Regions from separate parts of the Homo sapiens genome. Here region 2 is linked to region 1. Evidence: fine-mapped expression QTL. A gene starts in region 1. The other region holds a variant in brackets. All regions are shown on one strand. Distances are from middle to middle.

What was found. PIP is the estimated chance that this variant, and not a neighbour inherited with it, causes the effect.
Region 2: its variant is fine-mapped to the expression of SCRN3 in tibial artery (GTEx, PIP 0.92).

The regions. Positions count from the first base shown.
Region 1 is chr2:174,390,869-174,399,164 of GRCh38, forward strand. SCRN3 (secernin 3) reads left to right here and starts at 4,862. Exons shown (of 8, transcript NM_024583.5): 1 at 4,862-4,949; 2 at 7,407-7,574. The coding sequence starts at 7,416. CIRSR (corepressor of RBPJ and splicing regulator) reads right to left here and starts at 4,844. Exons shown (of 10, transcript NM_004882.4): 1 at 4,683-4,844. The coding sequence starts at 4,754. RefSeq lists a silencer at 1,192-1,356 and enhancers at 4,743-4,792, 5,290-5,790.
Region 2 is chr2:174,445,580-174,453,920 of GRCh38, forward strand. GPR155 (G protein-coupled receptor 155) reads right to left here. Exons shown (of 16, transcript NM_152529.7): 11 at 8,158-8,262; 12 at 1,032-1,168. Among named protein-coding and RNA genes, the nearest start is that of GPR155, 37 kb to the right of the region's middle. The variant A/G (reference allele first, on the strand shown) is at 4,766.

The DNA.
Region 1 (8,296 bases):
TGCTTCCCCTTCTGCCATGATTTTAAGTTTCCTGAGGCCTCCCCAGCCCTGCAGAACTGCAAGTCAATTAAAATTCTTTCCTTATAAATTACCCAGTCTCAGGTATTTCTTCATAGCAGCATGAGAACAGACTAATACTAATACAAGACTAATATGGATCAGTAAACAAACACTTTCTTCTTTTGGGTGGTAAAGTTGCATATTGTGGGACTATACCATAATTTATAATTTATTTATCTCATACTGTATAAATGGGCACTTAAGAAATTTCCAGTATTTTGCTATTAAAAATTTTGCTGCAAGAACTCAATACACAGGTAATTTCACACACATTTGACAGGGTTTTGAAAAGGATCAAGGCATGGCCAAGGAAAAAAACAGGGCAAGATATAACTGGCAGAGAGAATGACTCAGGCAAAGGCCCAGAGATATAAAATAGAACGTAAGTAGTTCAATATTACTAACATATAAAATCTTAGGTTGGGCTGAGGTGGGCAGATCACCTTAAGTCAGGAGTCTGAGACCAGCCTGGCCAACATGGTGAAACTCCATCTCTACTAAAAATACAAAAATTAGCCAGGCGTGGTGGTGTGTATCTGTAATCCCAGCTACTCGGAAAGCTGAGGCAGGAGAATCACCTAAGCCTGGGAGGTAGAGGCTTCAGTGAGCTGAGACTGCATCACTGCACTCTAGCCTGGGCAACAGAGTGAGCCTCCATCTCAAAAAATAAATAAATAAATAAATCTGAGGTGGGAGAATAGTAGGAGGGGAGAAGGAGAAAAACGATGGAGTGAGATTACTTGGACTCAATCCTGTAATATTTTAATAACAGGCTGAAAGAGATCAGATTTGTGCTTAAAAAAAGACAATTCTATCGAAATAACTTACATTCATACAATGGAATATTATTTAGCAATAAAAAGGAAAAAGTACCAATACATGCCATACCATGGATAAACTTCAAAAACATTATGGTGAGAGTAGCCAGTCAAAAAAGACCACAGATTGCATGATTCCATTTAAATGAATTTCCAGAATAGGCAAATCCACTAACAGAAAGTAGATTAGTGCTTGCCTAGGGCTGGAGAGAGGGAGAAGAGTTAAGGAAAAATGGGAGTGACTAACAGGTATGCAGGTTTCTTTTTTTTTGAGTCAGTGTCTCACTGTCACCCAGGCTGGAGTGCAGTGGCGCAATCTTGGCTCACTGCAATCTCCGCCTCCCGGGTTCATGCGATTCTCCCACCTCAGCCTCCCAAGTAGCTGGGATTACAAGCGCCCGCCACCACACCCAGCTAATTTTTGTACTTTTAGTAGAGACAGGGTTTCACCATGTTGGCCAGGCTGTCTTGAATTCCTGACCTCGGGTGATCCACCCACCTCAGCCACCCAAAGTGCAGAGATTACAGGTGTGAGCCACCATGCCCAGCGGGGGTTTCTTTTTGGGGTGATGACAAAGTTCTAAAATTGTTTGTGGTAATGATTACTTAACTCCATGAATACATTTTAAAAACCACTAAATTGTACATTTTACATGGGTGTTTGTATGATATGTAAATTTATCTCAGCAGAGCTGTTAAAATGAAAAATGACTATTCTGATGGCTGTGTAGTGAATGGATTTGAGAGGACTCAAGATTGGAGGCAGTAGAACCACTTAGGAAATGCAACAATATAGGTGAAAGATGATGAGGGTCTGAATTAAGACACAAGCAGCAGTGACAGAAAGGAAAGATGGATTCAAGAGATATTTGGAAGGTAAGACCAATAGCATTCAGTGATTGACTAGATAAAGGAGTGATGGGAAAAGGGATGAATCCTGAGCTTCTGGTTTGGGCAACAGGATGAGGGACTGTTTTACTATCTATATTTCTACCCATATGAGATAGCAAGTATAAAAAGGGCTGATTTGGGGTAAAAAACTTTTATATCAGATATGTTGAGTTTGAGGTGCCTATAGGACATCAAGATGCAAATGTCTAGTAGATAGCTGTCTTGAGCCACATCAAAGTTAAGAAGAGAAAACTGGGACTGCAGATTTGAGTCATGAGTAAACAGGCTAGTTAAAACAGGCTAGTTGGATGTGATTGCTTGGGGCAAGCATACTAAGTAAGCAAGAAGTGGGCCAAGGATGAAACTCTGGGGAACACTTATATTTTAGGAGCAGGCTAAGAATAAAGATCCAGTGAAGTTGATGGGAAAAGAACAGTCTAATAAGAGAGCTGGAAAACTAGAAGAGAGTAGTTATTACAGCTAAGGGAACAGAGAGTTTCACAAAAAAGGGAGTTTACAGTGATGCAATTGTCAATAGCCAGTTTATGAACTGTTTGCCAGTCCACAAGAAGACTAAAGAGCTTGGACCACAATGTAAATTAACTGCTTCCTTCATTAACAAAATCAAGAAAAAAAAAGAACAGCTGAACAAAACAGTGTATCCTGTGACATAAATGATTGAGGCAGCGCATAACAATACACAACAGAGTGACCAGCAGATATACAGCATTCACTCTTATTTTTGGTGAACAAATGAGACCTTAAAACCTACTGGACTTTTTATAAGCTTGGGAAACTGAAAACAAACAAGGAAAAAAAGAACCTACTGGACTTTAATAAACCCAACATGCCTAATTTTACAATTAGAATTTTCTTTCTTTCTTTTTAAATATAGATGGGGTCTCACTTTGTTGCCTATGCTGGTCTTGAATTCCTGGCCTCTCAAAGTGCTGGAATTATAGGTATGAGCCACCATACCTGGCCCTTAAAATTTTCATGGTGGAACTCTTTTGCACTCTTTGATCAAACTCCTTTGTTTCTTCCACTTCTATTAAAAAAAAAAAAAAACTTTACTGGAGTATGACATATAAAAAGCTGTACATATTTAATGTATACAACCTGAGTTTGGTGACAAGTATATCCCTGTGAAACCATCATCACAATCTACACTATAAACATATCCATCACCTCCAAAAGTTTCCTCCTACCCTAATAAATTTTTCTATTTATCTTCATTTAATATAGTTCCTTTATCCTTAGTTAATAAAGAATGCTAGAGGTCACCCCCTCTCCCCATAAAGTGTTAACTATCTAGAAAGGTCTGCTAATCAAAAACATTTCATTCTTCTCCTCTATCCTGGGAAAAGTATAAAACAGATCAAAGAGGCCAACAATATTTGGTACATTTTACATAACACTTTACACAGATGAGAAGAATGTAGGTTCTAAGCCTATAACTGCTTTACTGAATTTCTCATAGCGGACTTGCAAAAGTTATTCTCTGTGGATTTCTTTTTTCTTGTAAGAAAGCTGATACATTGAAATTTATAAAGCGAAATGTCAAAAGTTCCAGTAAAAAATTATGATTTCTCAGGTATATTTGTCTCTAAATATAAACAGCAAATAAGCAAGCACCTGAATTCCATCTAATCTCTTCATTCTTGTAAAAATAGTAACAGCTGACCCCCTAAGTATGCAGAGAAAGGAAATGTCTGTGTTTGGTGTCAAAAGTTATTGAGCCAACCAAATACAAGAAACCTCTCCCTCCCACAGTTGCAACCACACAAACACAAACTGGTGCAGTGGAAAAAAAATCACTGGGTTAATCAGGTGTTCCAGATCCTAGTTCTGGTACAACATTTAACTAGCTGTGTAACTCTTGGCAAATTTGTTTCCTCATTTATAAAATGAGGAGATGGGGCTGGATGATTACCAAAGAGCTTTCAAGGTGTATCTGTGTTATTAAAATTTCATGGGGGAGTTATTAAGAAAAAATGTTTAATAAGACTCCTTAGGAAGGTAACAGTGAAAAAAAAGTTGAGAATCACTGGTCTAGAAGTGAGAGTATATAGCAGTATCTCATCACCTCAACTCGTTCTAAAAACAAATAAAAGCTTAGTTATTTTCACAAGTTTCTATGTAGGGGCAATCAACATTTTATTGAGCACCTCCTCTCTGTAGTGGACACAGTGATAGATGCCTACGTTGTTTCAAATCCTTTATCTTCACTATTTCACTTAATCCTCACAATTAAGTCAATCATCCTTAATTTACAGATTAGAAGACTGAGGGTCAGATATTACAAATATTTTGTGCAAGGTCTTAAGGCTAAAAGTGACTGCTCGAATAACTAGAATCCAGGTTTGACTCCAAAGCTGATTCTTTCTACTTCACTCTTTTGCTTTTCATTACTATGATATTCACCAAAGTATTACAACTGGTAGACCTGTAATTATGTAAAACACTAAACTTCAACGAGTTTAGTCATCAAAAAGACACTAGATTATTAGGTAATTTTTTTAAAGATCTATCTTAAGTAAACGGGGAGGCTTCTTTGTACAGAAAAGTAGAGTTCAGAAGCCGTGATCCCTGGGATCCGAAAAGACAAAAAACCAGAATCAGCTGAAGGAAGTACTGAGGAATTTTGACATTAGTCTTCGCATATTATGGATTTGCATTCTGGCCGACAAAGATTCTCTAGGCCACCGGTCTCCTCGCTGTTGCAGAATAAACGCTGAGGACCCGCTGCGTCAGCGAGCTGCTCAGCAGAGAAAGGCGAGACCACCAGGGCTTTAGGCCTAGAGAAGCGGAGGCTGTCCTAGGGATCTCAGAGACACCATCACTTTCACTTCCAGCAGCCTCTGGGAAGGCGGTCCCTGTGGGCCTAATCCCTCCCCGGGTCTGTTTACTCACTTTTTTGATATTGGATTTGGAGGCAGGATGAAAGTCTTTCTTGCACATGAAGTTGGCGAAGGATTTCCCCATCTTGGAACTGGAACTAGGGAAAGCAGGGGCTAGATCTGTTAGCAACGTAAACAAACTCAGCCGCCTAACCGGAACTGCGTTTCCAGCAGCAAGGGGGAACTTCCGAGATCAAAGGTGACAGCTTCCGGCAACTGATGCCTCCACTGGCCACTCCTCCCTCCGTCCACCTGTCACTTCGGGTAGCTGGGAGGCCAGGTGAGGGGCGCGCACGGGGGAGGGGCGTGCATAGTTGAGACAGAAACCCGGAAGACCCAACTGTGGCGCGGCACTGCTTGACCGAGGGGCTCCGGAGCCCAGCTGCACCGGCTGCGGTTTGAGCGCCCAGGGCCGGGGTGCGGGGTGGACCGCGGCGGCCCTTCGACCAAAGGTGCTTGAAGCTCGAGCCCATTACTTTCTGTGGACTCTGACTCGAGCTGCAAAAGCTTTTCTGCACTGTTTTTCTCATCTATGTTATGAAGATAATAATTCCGGCCCTAACCGTAGTATGCTTGCGAGAATCCAACAATATGATGTTTCTGAAAGCGCCGGCTGAACTAAGAGCGCGTGAAATAGAATGACAGACAGCTCTGCAAGAACGGAGGCCCTGTCTATTTTGTACCCAGCTGTACGGTACTGGCGCCGAAAGACGTTCAATAAATACTTATTGAATGACGAATACGCGTTAGGAGTTGGTAAAATCTCTCAAGGCTTCACCTCCTCAGTGGGCTAGGTGCAATTCTAACCAGGGGGCAAGTTTCCTTAGCTTTCCCTACGACCCCAGTTAGGCAGCTCAGGTTACTATTGCAGCTTGATGGCCCTTGGGACTCCAGGTTTTTGAGTGGACGTGGCTGCTACTGCAGCAGGTGATCCACCAACCAAGTTCTCTATCAGGGTAATGTTAAGAATAAACCTTGGCCGGGCGCGGTAGCTCACGCCTGTAATCCCAGCACTTTGGGAGGCCAAGGTGGGTGGATCACCTGAGGTCAGGAGTTCAAGACCAGCCTGGCCAACATGGTGAAACCCCGTCTCTACTAAAAACACGAAAAATTAGCCGGGTGTGGTGGCACGCGCCTGTAATCCCAGCTACTCGGGAGGTTGAGGCAGGAGAATCACTTGAACGCGGGAGGCGGAGGTTGCAGTGAGCCAAGACTGCTCCATTGCACTCCAGCCCGGGCAACAAGAGTTAAACTCCATCAAAAAAAAAAAACAAAAAACGAATAAGCCTTTATGAGAAATTTTCTCTCCTACCAAATAATAACAATAACAGCTTTCATGTGAGTATCTACTATGTTCTATGCACTGTGCAAAACACTTTACGTGTTGCCTTATTAAGTTCTCATAACAGCCCATCAAATAGTGTCTTATTTTTCTGATGAGGCAGAAGGCATAGGTAAGAGAGAGATTAAATAGTCTGCCAAAGTTATATAGTGATAGAACTAACTATAAAACACAAATAGAAGGAGATCCAGGACATAAGAGTTGAAATACAGAAAGAAAATAACAGAAGCCATCAAGACATCAGACTTCTCGTCACTGAGGAGAAGAGGAAAACCCTTAAGAGTTTCAGTCTGAAGTTTTTATTTAGTCATTTTCTTTTCTTTTTAAGGAAACATTTATTATATTTAAATTTTGTTTTTAAGTTGCTAGCATCTGCCTGTGTAAAGCCATTTTAAGGTTTTGCCATTATTAAAGGAAAGAAGGAAACTCTGTAAAACAATGTGTCTGTTCTGGCAGCAAAATAAGGACCTTTAGGTGTTCTATTATAAGTGAAGATCTAAGATTTTCCAAGTTACAACTGAAGAGGTAATCTAGATATTAAAGTATATAATTGCGATTTATAAATTAAATATGTGAACTTTCTCCTAGAAATATCAGCAATTTGGAATTATATTGACATATTTTTGTCTGAATCAATGAGTCTGTTTCAAAATTTCAGTCTCATCAGAATTATAATGTGTATTATTTCCCAGCTCAAATAAGACCCCTTCTTCCTTCCTTTGAGGAAGTACTGGGCACGTAAGATTTTTTTCCATAAGACAAGTTCCAGCAAAGAGAATATAAAGATTAGTAAGACATACTCCCAGCCCTCAAGGATCTCATTGTCCAGTAAAGGGATTTATATATACACGAATGTAATGGAATCTAGCCTTTACAACAATAGAGCTAGGTACACGGATTCCCAAATATGGAAATGGTGAAACGAAATTCAGGGAAGACTTTAGGAGAGAAAGGTCTTAGAGAATAAATGTGAACTATACAGTAGAAGAAGGTAGTTCTCATTGCCATTTTCTTACTGAGTTGTAGTACCAGATTGAGTCCCAAGTCATATTCTTACTGATTTTTAGGCTGTAGTATACAAAATTTAAAACTTTAATGAACAGCCAAGCACGGTCACTCATGCCTGTAATCCCAGGGCTTTGGGAGGCAGAAGGGGGAGGATCTCCTGAGCCCAGGAGTTCCAGGCTGCAGTAAGCCCTGATCATACAACTGCACTCCAGCCTGGGTGAAAGAGCTAGACCTTGTCTCCAAAAAATAAAAATAAAAAAATCAAAGCTTTAATGAACATCCTTAATTAGATATGGCAATAATATCCTTTGGTCATTGAGTAAAACTCTTTATTTTTATATACTTAAAAGTGTTCTTTTTATTTTAAAACATCTGTATAATTTTTAGTTAAAAAAAATGGAACCTTTTTCCTGTGACACTTTCGTGGCATTACCTCCAGCAACAGTCGATAACAGGATTATTTTTGGAAAAAATTCAGATAGACTCTATGATGAAGTACAAGAGGTGGTTTATTTTCCTGCTGTAGTTCATGATAACCTGGGAGAACGTCTTAAGGTAGGTGAAATAAATGTTTTGTTAGCAATATGCCTTTTAAAAATATCATAAAGTTATTTCTATACATAGCAATTTGGAAGAAACTGTAGAAGTTAAAATTGAGGAGTTTACATTTGAAAAATAAATGAGTCAGAAATAAACTGTGATCTTTTATTTCAGTGATTCGGAGGACGTTGAAATAACAATAATAAAATTATCCATTGTTTGAATAAATATTTGAATGCTTTCCATATGCAAGCATGTTAGATAGGGCAAGAGATTTAAAGTCAGCTGTCAAGACTCTGTTCCAGGAGCTTAGAGTCTAGTATAGCAATAAGATGTGTATGCATTATACCCCATTATAAAATAGGATGGTTTAAATGCTAAATTTAAGTAACAGTAGCATGCTGTGGCAGCGGAAGAGAATGAACATTTAATTCAGCTTGGAGTTAGCTGGAATTTGATGGACAAAAAGGATTCTGATTCTGAATTGGCTTAGGTTCTACTTGATGTAGAATAGGAAAGTCATCCCAGACTTTAGGAATGACAGTTTTATGACACATCAAAAAAGGTTTATTAGGCCCTATGTTAACACTATCAATATACATTTTATGCAGTCACTTGGTAGTATACACATTAATTAAAGGATCCTTTAAAAACTTATTTTAAAAACCCATTTAATGTGGAACTTAAAATGAGAGCTTCAAATTATGCTATTGTTGCTAATTCATACTTTTTAGATT
Region 2 (8,341 bases), 55 kb after region 1:
ATTGGCTGATATCACACTATCTCACGAGCATCCCAGTGTGCAAAGCGTTCCTTCATAGGTTATCTGGTCCATCTCCTACCTCTGGACGAGTTACACTTGAACCATCTCAAAGAATTATATAATAAGAACTGATAATTCACAAATAGGACATTTAGTAATCAAAGAAATGCATGTAGTCTAAAAATAAAATACTGTATTTTAATTTTCTCTATTTTGTAAGGGTCTATTATATGAAGTAGTTATGTTATTTTGATAATTGAAAATTATTTTTTAAAGTTTATCTGAGGAATATGTTCTGAGAGGTTTTTTGGTTTTCTTTTTTTTTTTCTGGTGGACACTGAGGTTTCATGTTCTGAGACATTAATGTAGGCATTTATCCACTTTGGTCAGTCAGGTATGTTAGGAATAAGTGGCCCTGTGTACATTATTGAAATAGCTGCTTTTGGGCCTGGCGCAGTGGCTCACGCCTGTAATTCCAGCACTTTGGGAGGCTAAGGAGGGTGGATCACCTGAGGTCAGGGGTTCAAGACCAGCCTGACCAACATGATGAAACCCCGTCTCTACTACAAATACAAAAATTAGCCAGGCATGGTGGCATGCGCCTGTAATCCCAACTACTCAGGAGACTGAAGCAGGAGAATCGCTTGAACCCGGGAGGCAGAGGTTGCAGTGAGCTGAGATCATGCCACTTCACTCCAGCCTGGGCAACAGAGTTAGACTCTGTCTCAAAAAAAAAAAAAATAAAAAATAAAAAGAAATAGCTGCTTTTACCAAATTCTAGGTTCAGAGCATAGAATGAATAAATGATTCTAAGCAGAATAAGCTATTGGAGCACTCAGGCCTCAGAGTAATGTGAATGATTCATCTCTTCCCCTCACACCTGCAATTATTTAGCTCAAGATCCAAATTCAGGTGACCTAGCTACCACACTTCTGGAAAGCAGCAACTAAGTTTTTCCCGGATGCCTGAATAAAACCTTTGCCAAAAATTTAAAGAAATGGCCCCAAAACAAAACCAGAAAAAACCATTACAGCGAACAGGCCAATGATGAGAAGTAAACACAGCAACACATGTCGGGTCAGTTGCTGGTCTCCACTCTGTAGATACTGTTCTTCTTCCTGGGCTAATATGCAGCTCTGGGAGTTACAGCGACTCACACAATGATTGTCTATAAAAGAGTAAGCACAACAATTTGTAATCAGAGCTTTTTATCTAAATGCATTTTAAATTTGTAATGACTTCCTAAGAGAAACAACAGAAAAGCACATTCAGCTAAGAATCAGTATATTATTTTAGATGAAATTGGAAGAAAGCTCCTTCATGTTGCTTTAGAAGAATTCTAGCTGAAATGTTTTTATCTCAAAAAACATAAGTAGAATACAATAGTTCCCTTTTACACTATTCAACAATGTTTTATATATATAATTATCTAACATAAGTTATATAATTTGGTCTTTAAAAATTATACATAATTTGCCTGGGTGCGGTGGCTCATGCCTGTAATCCCAGCACTTTGGGATGCCGAGGCAGGCAGATTACTTGAGATTAGGAGTTCAAGACCAGCCTGGCCAACACGGTGAAACCTCATCCCTACTAAAAATACACAAATTAACTGGGTGTGGTGGCGGGCACCCGTAATTCCAGCTACTTGGAAGGCTGAGGCAGGAGAATCGCTTGAACCCAGGAGGCAGAGGTTGTGGTGAGCCAAGACTGCACCACAGAGTAAGACTCTGTCTCAAAAAAAATTAAAAAAAATAATAAAAAATTATATATAATTTTTATATAATTAATATAATTAAGTATAAATTATATATAATTTTTATTTTATATATTAGTTATATAAATAATATATACACATTACATATATAATTATATAACAATTATATATTATGTTATAAATGTATATTATATATCAGTATATATTATAATCATATAAATTTATATATAATTATATATGTAATTTGTGCATATTATATAAATTACAAATTAATATATAAGCATATATAAATAAAAATTTTATATTTAATTATATTTATAATTTACATATATAAATTATATATTAAATATATAATATATATTAGATATTATATATATCCTAAGTGAATTAACACAGGAACAGAAAACCAAGTACTGCATGTGCTTACTTATAAGTGGGAGCTAAATATCAGATACTCATGGACATAAAGATGGCAACAATAGGAACTGGGGACTACTAGAGGTGAGGAGGGAGGAAGGGGGACAAAGGTTGAAAAAGTATATAATATATATTTTTATTTTTATATTGTATATATTAAAATTATATACATATAATTTTAAAGGCCGAATTAATAACTCAAGTTTTATCACTGATAAATCTACATATTAGTCATGAATACCCTATTTTGGCTAACTGTGAAACAAATTATTATTATCTCTTAACCTCTCATTAAAGAGTTTACAATTTGCCTTAACCCCTGCCTTTCACCATATACAAAAATTAACTCAAGATGGACTAAGATTTAAATGTAATGTCTCAGCCAGGCACGGTGGCTCACGCCTGTAATCCTAGCAATTTGGGAGGCTGAGATGGGCGGATCACTTGAGGTCAGGAGTTCAAGACCAGCCTGGCCAACATGGTGAAACCCTGTCTCTACTAAAAATACAAAAATTAGCCAGGCATGGTGGCGGCCGCCTGTAATCCCAGCTATTTGGGAGGCTGAGGCAAGGGAATTGCTTGAACCTGGGAGCAGAGGTTACAGTGAGCCAACATCGTGCCATGGCACTCCAGCATGGGCAACAGAGCAAGACTGTGTCTCAAAAAAAAGTAATGCCTCAAACTATAAGAATCCTAGAAGAAAACCTAGGAAACACCATTCTGGACATCGACCTTTGGGAAGAATTTATGACTCAGTCCTCAAAAGCAATTGTAACAAAAACACTATACTGGGAAGTTTTTTGTTTTTTGTTTTTTGTTTTTTTTTTTTTTTTTTGAGACGGAGTCTCGCTCTGTCGCCCAGGCCGGACTGCGGACTGCAGTGGCGCAATCTCGGCTCACTGCAAGCTCCGCTTCCCGGGTTCACGCCATTCTCCTGCCTCAGCCTCCCGAGTAGCTGGGACTACAGGCACCCGCCACTGCGCCCGGCTAATTTTTTGTATTTTTAGTAGAGACGGGGTTTCACCTTGTTAGCCAGGATGGTCTCGATCTCCTGACCTCATGATCCACCCGCCTCGGCCTCCCAAAGTGCTGGGATTACAGGCGTGAGCCACCGCGCCCGGCCTACTGGGAAGTTTTAAGGTAAAAACAAAAACAAAACCAAAAATTGACAAGTGGGACCTAATTAAACTAAAGAGCTTCTGCATAGCAGAAGAAACTATGAACAGAGTAGACAGACAACCTACAGAATGGGAGAAAATATTCGCACACTATGCATCTAACAAGGCCTAATATCCAGAATCTATAAGGAACTTAAACAATTGAACAAACAAAACACAAATAACTCCATTAAAAAATGCACAAAAGACATGAACAGACACTTCTCAAAGAAGACATACAAGCGGCCAACAAACATGAAAAAATGCTGCACATCACTAATCATCAGAGAAATCAAAACCACAATGAGATACCGTCTTGCATCAGTCAGAAGGGCTATTATTAAAAAATCAATAAACAACAGATGCTGGTGAGGCTGTAGAGAAAAGGGAATGCTTTATACCATTGGTGGGAATGTAAATTAGTTCAGTCACTGTGGAAAGCAGCCTGGAGATTTCTCAAAGAACTTAGAACAGGACTACCATATGACCCAGCAATCCCATTACTGGGTACATATCCAAAAGAAAAAAAATGGTTCTACCAAAAGACTCATGCACTTGCATGTTCATCACAGCACTACTCACAACAGCAAAGCATGGAATCAAACTAGGTGCCCATCGATGGTGGACTGGATAAAGAAAATGTGCTACATATATACCATGGAATACTATGTAGCCATAAAAAGAATGAAATAGGCCAGGCACAGTGGCTCATGCCTGTAGTCCCAGAACTTTGGGAGGACAAGGCGGGCAGATCGCTTGAGCTCAGGAGTTCGAGACCAGCCTGGGCAACATGGCGAAACCCTGTCTCTAAAAAACTAAACAAGTCCGGATGCGGTGGCTCACGCCTGTAATCCTAGCACTTTGGGAGGCTGAGGTGGGCAGATCACCTGAGGTCAGGAGTTTGACACCAGCCTGACCAATATGGTGAAATCCCGTCTCTACTAAAAATATAAAAATTAGCCGGGCATGGTGGCAGGTGCCTGTAGTCCCAGCTACTCGGGAGGCTGAGACAGGAGAATTGCTTGAACCTGGGAGGCGGAGGTTGCAGTGAGCCAAGATCGTGCCACTGCACTCCAGCCTGGACGACAGAGCGAGACTCCATCTCAAAAACAAAACAAAACAAAAATTAGCCAGGCGTGGTTGCACACGTCCGTAGTCCTGGCTACTTGGTAGGCTGAGGTGGGATGATGGCTTGAGCCTAGAAGGCAACAGTTGCAGTGAGCTGTGCACTCCAGCCTGGGTGGCAGAACCAGATCCTGTCTTGAAAAAAAAAAAAAAAGAATGAAATAATGTCCTTTGCAGCAACACGGATGCATCTGGAGGCCATAATCCTAAGTGAATTAACACAGAAACAGAAAACCAAGTGCTGCATGTGCTCACTTATAAGTGGGAACTAAACATCAGATACTCATGGACATAAAGATGGTAATGATGGAAACTGGGGACTACGAGAGGTGGAAAGGAGGGAGAGGGC[A/G]AGGGCTAAAAAACTACTGGGTACTATGCTTAGTACCTGGGTGATGGGATCATTTGTTTGTACCCCAAACCTCAGCATCACATAATATACCCAGGTAGCAAAACTGCACACGTACCCACTGAATCTAAAGTAAAAGTTGAAAAAAACTTTGCCTTAGGAAACACCTTTGAGGAACCATAAAAGTATTATATGCCATGTTTTGTTCACATATGGATACAAACACAAGTCACAGGCATGACTCTTTTCTGGCCAAAAATAGAGGTGAGGGACTTTTCACAGGAAGCCTTTGTTTTTCTACCTTAGCTCCATTCTATATATGGGAGCAAAAGCAAAGAAAAACATTTTTTTTACAAAATAGATGTCTAGTCCAACATATAGTCTTATACAAGTCAGTGATTAAAAACCACAATTCTATAGCTCTTGCCCTCAAGCTAAAAGAAAAAATTTGTATTTCCTAAAACCACATTTTAGAAAAGGCCATGTATACCCATTAAACATGGTCTAGCACAATTGCTGATGGCATGGGGGAAGGTTCATAATGTTGCTAAGTATAAAGAAAGTAGGTTGCCAAACTGTCTCTGTAGTATGATCCTATTTGAATAAAAATTATTTGTATATATGTGTGGAAAAATCCTGGAAGTATACCTATATATAATAAATCTGGTTTTAAAATATTGTGTACAAGCCAGGCACGGCAGCTGACGCCTGTAATCCCAGAACTTTGGGAGGCCGAGGTGGGAGGATCACTTGAGATCAGGAGTTTGACACCAGCCTGGCCAACATGGTGAAACCCCGTCTCTACTAAAAATACAAAAAAAAATTAGCTGGGTGTGGTGGCAGGTGCCTGTAATCCCAGCTACTTGGGAGCCTGAGGCAGGAGAATTGCTTGAACCCGGGAGGCAGAGGTTGCAGTGAGCCAAGACTGCGCCACTGCACTCTAGCCTGGATGACAGAGCGAGACTCCATCTCAAAAAAAAAAAAATTTTTTATACAGATATTACAAAAATGGATAAAAATAAATCTTCTTTCATTTGCTTTTTCATACATTGTTGCCATTCAACAATCTAAATGTGATACTTATTTTTGCCTTTGTACTATGCCAAGGGGTAGAGAATAAATTATATTGTCAACTCTAAAAATTCTAATTTGCCCATGGTTTAATTTCCTTCAGGCTTTATTTTAGGCTTAGGGATGGCACTAAATTGTATGATTAGATGAAGTCCCTATATAATGGCTCTCATTCTATATAATTTTTATAAAATATGATCAGAAAATCCAAGCCCCTACAATTTAAGAGAATTTTCAATGATCAACTTTTTGTTTGTTTATTTTTGAGACAGGGTCTTGCTCTGTTGCTCAGACATGATCATGGCCTATTGCAGCTGCAACCTCCTGGGCTCAAGCGATCCTCCCACCCCAGCCTCCTGGGTAGCTGGGATTACAGGCATGAGCCACTGCATTCAGCTAATTTTTTTGATTCTTTGTAGAGATAGGGTCTGGCTATGTTGCCCAGGCTGGTCTTGAACTCCTGGGCTCAAGCACGATCCTCTTGCCTTTGCCTCCCAAAGTGGTGGGATTACAGGAGTGAGCCACCACGCTCAGGCGAGAATCAACATTATTAATGAAGAAAATGACAGATAAGCAAAGCCTAAGGAGATTTGGGGAGGGAAAAAGAAATTTGCCAAATCAGATTACATGTTGAATTTGTTAATGGATTTTACTACTAGGTATATTGTGTAGGGAGATAACAATAAGGAGGAAAACCTTGGGAATTCTGATGTAAAGAAACGATTTTAGAAAAAAAGCAGACAGATAAAACAAAGACAGTGTAACTGCCAGAAAGGGTTTCTTGTAAAAGAAAAAAAAGTCAATGAATGTTTCATATCTGATATGTTTTCACTACTTTTTATGGAAATGTGAATTCTATTATTATTTAAGATTCATTCCTTGCCAGCAGATAGCCAAATATAAATCCCATCTGAATAACAATAATTACTACTGCTACTACATATTTTAATGACCATTTACTATGTATACCACATACTGTGCTAAGTGATTTGCATACATTGTTTTCTATAATCCTTACATTTCTTATATAAAAACATAATGCCTTTAGCAATAATACAGTTGACATAGGCCTTATCAAAAAGAGCATTTTTGGGGGTTTCCCTTTTTAGTTTGATTATAAATAAGTATAATCAACGAAAAATGCACTGCAATTCCACATAAGTATGTTCGGTTGTTTTGAATAATTTGAAATTTAGGCCACAAATGTAATTCAGCCTCTTAGTCAAAAGGTTATTACTTTTTTTTTCCCCCTAGATGGAGTCTTGCTCTGTCACCTAGGTTGCAGTGCAGTGGCGTGATCTTGGCTCACTGCAACCTCCGCCTCCTGTGTTCAAGCAATTCTCCTGCCTCAGCCTCCCAAGTAGCTGGGATTACAGTTGGGTGGGATTACCACCACACCCAACTAATTTTTGTATTTTCAGTAGAGACGGGGTTTCACCATGTTGGCCAGGCTGGTCTCGAACTCCTGACCTTGTGATCCACCCGCCTCGGCCTCCCAAAGTGCTGGGATTACAGGCGTGAGCCACCTTGTCTGGCCAAGAGGTTATTACTTTTAAAGGTGTTTGTTCCTTATTTTATAAGAATGGCCATATTTAAAGCATAAAGATTCAAAATATAATTAAGAACTAATTAATTAGTCCTGGTCCTAGGGGATGAGAATGGGGGAAAAGTCTGTTTCTAAAACAAGAAAAAAGCTTCCCTCTCTCCACCTCCCACCAAAATGCCCTTTAGGGCAAACTTCCTGGATTTGTCACTTGGGTTAAATTTATTGGAAAATGTGTGTATGACACTACCTATTATCACTTTGTGAGAACTTTATTTTTTAAAGTGAGTATTCTGTCTATGCACAATTATTCCCTATTAGCACTTCTTTGCTCTTAATTGAGGATCTATATTCTTGATGTTTGTAACTTCTATAGATATTCTATGTAGAGTTCTTTTGAGGGATAAGAATAAGGAATCTTCTGGCCGGGTGTGGTAGCTCACGCCTGTAATCCCAGCACTTTGGGAGGCCGAGGCAGGCAGATCACGAGGTCAGGAGATCGAGACCATCCTGGCTAACACAGTGAAACTCCGTCTCTACTAAAAATACAAAAAATTAGCTGGGCATGGTGGTGGGCGCCTGTAGTCCCAGCTACTCAGGAGGCTGAGGCAGGAGAATGGCGTGAACCTGGGAGGCACAGCTTGCAGTGAGCCAAGATAGCGCCACTGCACTCCAGCCTGGGTGACAGAGCAAGACTCCGTCTCAAAAAAAAGAAAAAAAAAAAAAAGAATAAGGAATCTTCTGTCCCTTAATCCCATCCTCATAGTCCAGAGGCACTTACTTTTCTCAAACGAAGGAATCACAGGCTCACTGGTGCTTGTGTTTGCTATTGGCTCTATTGATGGGCAGTGTAATTCACCATTTCCCATGGAGCAGGAGCAGCAACCTATATCAATCAAATAGTATGTGAGAGTAGAGCCCAACCACAACAGAAATGGACAATTTTAAGAAATGCCAAAGAAAAC